2 linked regions of the Homo sapiens genome follow. The protein of the gene in region 2 interacts with the protein of the main gene of each other region in a biochemical or structural test. Each region holds a gene or a part of one and is shown on either strand. Other genes may lie near its edges.

Evidence for each region.
Region 1: the proteins of HIKESHI (region 2) and NUP62 form a complex in vitro, tested with the Homo sapiens proteins (one study listed by IntAct).

Annotation. Positions count from the first base shown.
Region 1 is NC_000019.10:49,922,766-49,926,583, forward strand, and holds part of NUP62 (nuclear pore glycoprotein p62), read right to left. Parts: intron 1-3,818. UniProt on the Homo sapiens protein: Essential component of the nuclear pore complex. The N-terminal is probably involved in nucleocytoplasmic transport.
Region 2 is NC_000011.10:86,332,987-86,336,804, forward strand, and holds part of HIKESHI (protein Hikeshi), read left to right. Parts: intron 1-2,977; exon of another isoform or gene 2,978-3,818. UniProt on the Homo sapiens protein: Acts as a specific nuclear import carrier for HSP70 proteins following heat-shock stress: acts by mediating the nucleoporin-dependent translocation of ATP-bound HSP70 proteins into the nucleus.

The sequences.
Region 1 (3,818 bases), on a different chromosome or scaffold from region 2:
ACCAGCGCTGCCAGTGTTGCTGCGGCCCCGGTGCCTTTCAGGGGCCCAGGTGCTTCTGGGAGCCACCCCTCCCTCTGGGCCTGACACAGGGCCCAAGGTGGTCAGCAGTTCACCGGTCCAGGCCTCTTCCCATGTCAACCCCCTGCCCCTCCACACTGCCCCAAGGTAGTTCTATGATTGTGCCCATTTTACTGATGAGGTGACCACAGGTCGGGGGGTACAGTATCTTGTCCCAGACCACTAAGCGGTGAGTGATGGCATCCTGGGCTCTAGGACACTGGTGTCAGTTGTTATCAGTTTGCTGTGTCCCTTTTTTTTTGCATAAGAGCTGTGACTGCTTCTACTGAAGGGACAAGGGCAGGCACAAGGGAGGGAAGGGGCTCTGGAGGACTGTGGGCCACGTGGCAGCCTGTGCTGTCTCCCAGCCCCCGCGTCATCCTCTCCCCAACTGAGCTGGCCTTGGCCTACCTGCCCTTGTTTGCCAGGACTCCCACCTTCAACCCCGGCACCCCTGGCCTGCGTGACCCAGTTACCCTCCCTGGCTCCTCTCAGGGACCTCAGTATCACATTCGCTGGCCTCTGTGCTGAGCAACTCATTAGAAAATGTATTGATGCCTACGGAAATAGCAGCACAGGGCGGGGGGTTGTGGGGAACGTTTCTGGGAATGAGGAGGGCCCTGACTTTGCCCTCGAAGCGTTCGGGGGAGCAGTCACGTAGGCAGACATCTGCACACGGCGGATCTGAAAGCAGAAGCAGGCGTGGCGAGAACAGAGAGAATCACACACAGACCCGGGCTCTGGCAGCCGCCGGCTTCACTGATGCCATCTCCACAGCGCTCCCACACCAGGCCCCAGAGCAGGAACTACTGCTCACAGGGCATTTCCCTATGCCAGGCCCCACTCTAGGTATTTCACGCACATTTACACATTTAATCCTCAAAACCACCGTCTGCAATGGACCATCTCATCCCCATTTTACGGAGGGGAAACTGAGTCATAGAAAGAGGATGCCACTTGCTGAGGGTCACAGAAGTGGTGGAGTTGGGGTGTGAACCCAGCAGGCTGGCTCTAGGGCCCATGCTCTGACCCACGCTGCGGAAGGCAGCCGAGGCTCGGCAGATGAGGGCCCTGCCTGCACTCCAGTCTACAACTGAGTGCTGGGCTCAGGACCAGAACCCCGGTCTGTCTGATGCAAAACTCGGAGCCTTTTCCATCATGCCAGGAGGCCACCGTGATTGGGAAAGCAGTGAGGAGTTGCGGCAATAGCAGGGCGATGGCACGGTGCAGGTGCAGGCAGGAATCGATAGCGTCTGGCAACTGTGAGCAGCAGCAGGCCTGAGGTGAGGGTCAGGGCTTGGAGACCTCCCAGAGACTACACCATGGGCCTCGGGGCCCTGGAAGCTGTGCAGCATGGTGGAGGCTGAGGTCCCATCTAACTGGCACTGTGATTTTCACAACCCCCCTTACCTCTCGGGACCTCAGTCTTGACTCCTGCTAACAAGCCTCTGTGATCTGAGGCCCCTTCTTGGCACCGAGCCTCAGATTCTCAGGGTCCTGCACGGGTGGCTGATCTCCCTCCCTCTCCACACCACCCCTACTCTTGCTGTGCGGGGGTTCTCCCTTATCCAAGGCTCTGCTAACCGGGAGCGGTTGCCAGGTGTGCTGGGGTCCCCAGAGAATCCCCGAACTCCCCGTCCCCGTCAAACAGCCAGGGCTGATGCAACCTGCCTGCAACCACCGCCTCACTCCCCAAGCCAGGCCCCTCCGCACCGAAAAAGAGTCCCCAGTAGCCCCACCCTTGCTTCAAGCCCCAGCTCAGGAGTTGAAGGGGAGCTCGAGGCTGGGGGAGGCCAGGACATGAGTCCTGAAGGGGCCACAGGCCTGGGTCAGGAATGTGCACACGAGGGGACTCAGGGTTCGAAGATCTGGGGAGAAGGGTCGCAGGCAACCACTGATGACCGGCTATGAACTAGAACAGGCTGGGAGGGGCTGGAGAGCTAAGGGTGCCAACTGGCACCCACTCACCCTGAGTCCAGCTGCTAAGTCTGGCTGGGCTGAAGTGGGTGGGACCCAATAGCTAGAGAGAAAAGGCGGCAAAACGGTGGGGAGGGGAAGCAGAGTCCCTGCCCAGACACCTCTGCAGCCAGCATAAACCGCACATAGCCAGCAATGCAATTCTCCTACTGACCAAGCTATTAAAAATTACCCACACCGGGCCAGGCGCGGTGGTTCACGCCTGTAATACCAGCACTTTGGGAGGCTGAGGCGGGTGGATCGCCTGAGTTCGGGAGTTCGAGACCAGCCTGACCAACATGGAGAAACCCCGTCTCTACTAAAAATACAAAATTAGCCATGTGTGGTGACACATGCCTGTAATCCTAGCTACTCGGGAGGCTGAGGCAGGAGAATCTCTTGAACCCAGGAGGCAGAGGTTGCGGTGAGCCGAGATGGCACCATTGCACTCCAGCCTGGGCAACAAGAGTGAAACTCCGTCTCAAAAAACCAAAAAAATTAAAAAACAAAACAAAACAAAAAACCCAGGCCGGGCACAGTGGCTCAGGCTTGTAATCCTAACACTTTGGGAGGGTGAGGCAGGAGGATCGTTTGAGCCCAGGAATCAGGAATTCAAGACCAGCCTGGGCAACATAGTAAGACCCTCCCCCCCATCTCTACTAAAAAAAGCCAAAAAAAAAAAAAAATAGCATCCTACCTGGCCATCCTCTCAATATCCCGCAATCCCAGTCTGAGACAAAACCAAATGGAAGCACATTCCATAAAATACCCAACCAGCATTTTTCCAAACTGTCAAGGTCATGAAGGACAAGGAAAGTCTAAAACCAGTCACAGGCCAGAGGAGGCTGCGGAGCCATGATGCCTAAATATAACGTGGCATCCTGAAGGCATCCGGAAGGAGCAGAAAGGGCATTAAGTAACAACTACCAAAATCAGCATCAAGTGTGGTCAGAATCAAGAATGGCATTTGGTCAATGGTAACATACTGATGTTGCCTTGGTTGTGACAAATGTGGCAAAGTAATGTAAAATGTTAATGGAAAAAACCAAGTGAGGGGCATACAGAAATTCTCCGTATTATCTTTGCAACTTTTCTGTTGAGTCAATCTACAATTATTCCAAAATAAAAAATTTTATTTAAAAAATAACCCCCTTGGGTACGGTGGCTCACACCTGTAATCCCAGCACTTTGGGAGGCTGAGGCAGGCAGATCACGAGGTCATGAGTTCGAGACCAGCCTGACCAACATGGTGAAACCCTGTATCTACTAAAAATATAAAAATTAGCCAGGCATGATGGTGCATGTCTGTAATCCCAGCTACTCTGGAGCCTGAAGCAGGAGAATGGCTTGAACCTGGGAGGCGGTGGTTGCAGTGAGCTGTGACGGTGCCACTGCACTCCAGCCTGGGCAACAGAGCGAGACTCTGTCTCAAAAAAAAAAAAAAAAAAAAAAGCTAGGTCTTGCTTAAGACTGGGTGTGGTGGCTCATGCCTGTAAATCCCAGCATTTTGGGAGGCCGAGGTGGGTGGATCACCTGAAGTCAGGAGTTCAAGACCAGCCTGGCCAACATGGCAAAACCCCGTCTCTACTAAAAATACAAAAATTAGCCAGGCGTGGTGGTGGGCGCCTGTAATCCCAGCTACTTGGAAGGCTGAGGCAGGAGAATTGCTTGAATCTGGGAAGTGGAGGTTGAAGTGAGCCAAGATCATGCCACTGCACTCCAGCCTGGGCGACACAGCAAGACTCTGTCTCAAAAAAACCAAACCAAACCAAACCAAACCCAGTCCCCATGTACAATCTAGAAGA
Region 2 (3,818 bases):
GAACAGAATGTAAATTCATACTTTTAAATATTTTGTTCATAATGGCAAAGAGAAGAAAATTGACAGAGGAAGAAGTTTCACAATTATTAGACAAATCAGAAAATGAATACTGAAAGGTAAATTCTACACTGATGACGATGGTAAAGTGGATCATATAAGCAAAATTACCTACTATGAATCTTCAAATAAGATCTCATTATCTGAGTTTTCTCAACTAAAAATTTGATGATTGAACAATGTATTTTTAAGGATCAAGAGAAAATATGAGGCCGGGTGCGGTGGCTCATGTCTGTAATCCCAGCACTTTGGGAGGCCGAGATGGGTGGATCACTTGAGGTCAAGAGTTCCAGATTGGCCTGGCCAACATGGTGAAACCCCGTCTGCACTAAAAATTTGAAAATTAGCCGGTGTGGTTGCACAGGCCTGTAATCCCAGCTACTCGGGAGGCTGAGGCATGAGAATTGCTTGAACCCAGGAGGCGGAGGTTGCAGTGAGCCAAGATCGTCCTACCGCACTCCAGCCTGGGCAACAGAGTGAGACTCTGTCTCAACAACAACAACAACAAACAAACAAAAAAAAAAAAGAAAAGAAATATGGTATTCTACTCAGTCATTTAAGAAGAAGGAATTTCTCACATAATATTTTGTCATGGACAAGTAGTAAAGGATGTGTTCTGCTATTCTTTTATCTCTTATATTTGTGTTCCAAAATAGACTGGATATGGTTTTATAAATAGACAAATGCTGAAAGCAGGGGTGTATAGAGAAGTGATTGGAAGGAAATAGGTATAGGAATGAAAAAAAAAATAATTGGCTTGATCATTCTAAATAATGGTTATAAATCTAAAAATGAAAATATTTTGCAAAATGTAGATCAGAGGATAGCCATCCTTCAACAAATTATGAGCCGTTAAAGGTTTCAAAACTTCAAGCTTTCAGGTATTATATTATGGCAATGTAGATGCCAAAAAAAGAACAAGATACAACCATAAGCTATAACTTTATTAATAGATATCTGACTTATGAAATTTATAAAATGGATGTGTTCCATAAGACGCATGTGTTCCATGTTTATCCATGATGGTTGATGGGCAGTTGTATTCACAGGACATAGCCCATTTCAGCTATATCTTAAAAACAAGGAAAATGTGGAATGACTATCTGGATTTGCTGTACTTAAATACTTAGAAAAAATCTAATAAAGTTGTTTTCCACTATTTCCTGATTCTTCTCAACATTCTTTGTAAAATATGTGTGTGTGTGTGTGTGTGTGTGTGTGTGTGTGTGTAAAGTTTCCATTAGATGCAAATAACAAATGATGGTGACTGCTTTTCCTTGTATACTGAGAATAAAGAACTAGCTCCCTGTAGGAATTTTTCCTCTGAGTTGTGTTTTGTGTTAGGCTCTTGATTTACATGGAGGAGGGATGCTTTGAGAAAGAGTCTTAAAAAAAATTAGCTGCTGCATTTACTGTTAACAGTGTTTTAAAGAACTTGATCTAATTTACATTTGTTTTTTATATTAAGACTAGGTCATATATTTTGCTTGCTCTTCTTTGTATTATGATTTATAATTTATTATTTTTGCATCTATTTGATGATATGCTTTGATAATGATATGTTTTCTGGATTTTAGCATAATTCTAGATTTAAAAGAAATCAAACGGTAGAGTAAGGAGCTCCAGAAAATCCAGTCTTCCATAAAAGCAACAACAACACTGTCAGAAGATCACAGCTCACTGTAGTCTCGATCTCCTAGGCCTAAGCGATCCTCCCACCTCCACCTCCCAAGTAGCTAGGACCACAAGCATGCACCACCTCGCCTGGCTAACTTTTGTAGAGATGGGGTCTCCCCATGTTGCCCAGGCTGGTCTCAAACTTCTGGGCTCAAGCAGTCCTCCTGCCTCAGCCTCTGAAAGTGTTGGGATTACAGGATATGAGCAACTGTGTCTGACCCAGAATCAACTTTTTTGGAACTCTGGTAACTAACCAAAAGCTTGTAGCAATCAGGGGAACATTTAATCAAGAAAATACACTGAATCTCAGTAAGAACAGTGAGCTTTGTGGCATTTGGCTACCCTTGTCCCATCTGCTTCTCAGCTCAGTGATAGCCTTGAAAATAACAGACTCCATTCCTGGTACTGATATAGGGAGCAGGATAGACCTAATTCAGAAAGAATTGTAATTAACTTGTTTTCATCTGTCTGGTGGCTTGCTAGAAGACTGTTTAAAAAAAAAGAGGTCTGCCTTTATGTCACCTAACTTGGAACTCTTCATGGAAAAGTATCTACCTTGGGGGTGTTTGTTAAAAGTATTTACAGACATATGTTTTAGCTACTGTTGCCCGAGGCAAAGGAAAACAGTTGGAGTAAACCAAAACTAACCAGAAAGGTTGGGAATGAGATGCTTTGGGGAATGAGGGCTTTGAAATTCTCTGACATATTCTTGGTAATCTAGAAGGGTACGTGCATTCCCAGAGCTTTGTGCATGCTCAGGAAAGACCCGCGAAGACCCAGAGCTCTCTCTTCTGGCTCACTTTAAGTCTCCGCACAAGCAGGAAGTGAAGACTAAGGTGGAGTTATAAACTGCCTGGCTGAATACTAAAGGCATGTCCCAACACGCAGAGCCCATCTGCAAAGACTGGCAGAATTTTTTGGTTGCAGAGGTTTAAGGAAATTTCTTTCTAATCACTAGCAGACTACTAACTAATGGAACAGAGACTTCACTGGCCACACATAACAAAGAAACAGACTTTACAAAATTAGTTCAGATAAGTCATTAAATGAGGAAACAACTACAATAAACAGCAACAACAAACCCCTAGAAGGTGGAAACATCTGATTTATAGCGTCGTCACATTGTAATATTCAAAATGTCCAGTTTTCTACAAAAAATTATGAAACATACAAAGAAACAAAGTAAGGCTCTTATACAGAGGAAACGAACAGAAACTTCCCCCAGGGAAGCACAGGCAAAGACTTTAAGTAAGCTGTCTTTATTATGCTCAAATTGCTAAAGGAAACCAGAAGAATGATACATCATCAAATAGAGAATATCAATATAGAAATTATAGAAAGGAACTAAACAGAGTTTATAGCTGAAAAGTACAGTAACTGAATGGTTCACTAAAGGGCTTAGATAGCAGAATTGAGTAGACAGAAGAAAGAATCAGTGAAGTCGAAGATAAATTAATTGGAATATCCAGTTTGAAGAGCAGACCCTTAGAGACCTGTGAGACACCCTCAAGTGCACCAACATGCACAGCAGACACAGTGTAATGAGAGTAACATATGGAAAGGCGGGAGGGCTGGAAAGAATATTTGCTCTGGTCTGAATGTTTGTGTCTTTTTATATGATGAGGTCTTTTAAATTTATATGCTGAAATCCTAACCCCCAAGGTATTGGGAGGTAGGGACTTGGATGGTGACTGGGTCATGGGAGTAGAGCCCTCATGAATGGGATTACCACTCTTAGAGTAATAAGAAGATCACTTGCCCTACTACCACGTGAGAACACAGTGAGAAGGCACTGTCTGAACCAGAAAATGGTCCTTCACCAGATACCAAATCTGCCGGTTCCTTGATCTTGGACTTCCCAACCTCCAGAACTGTGAGAAATAAATTTCCGATGTTTATAAGCTACCCAGTTTATGGTGTTTTGTTATAGCAGCCTGAACAGACTAAAACAATATTTAAATAAATAATGCTCAGAAACTTCTCAAATTTGAGGAAAAACATTAACCACATTTAAGAAGCTCAAGAAACTCCAAGTAGGATAAACTACACCAAGACACACGATAATCAAACTGTCAAAAGGTAAA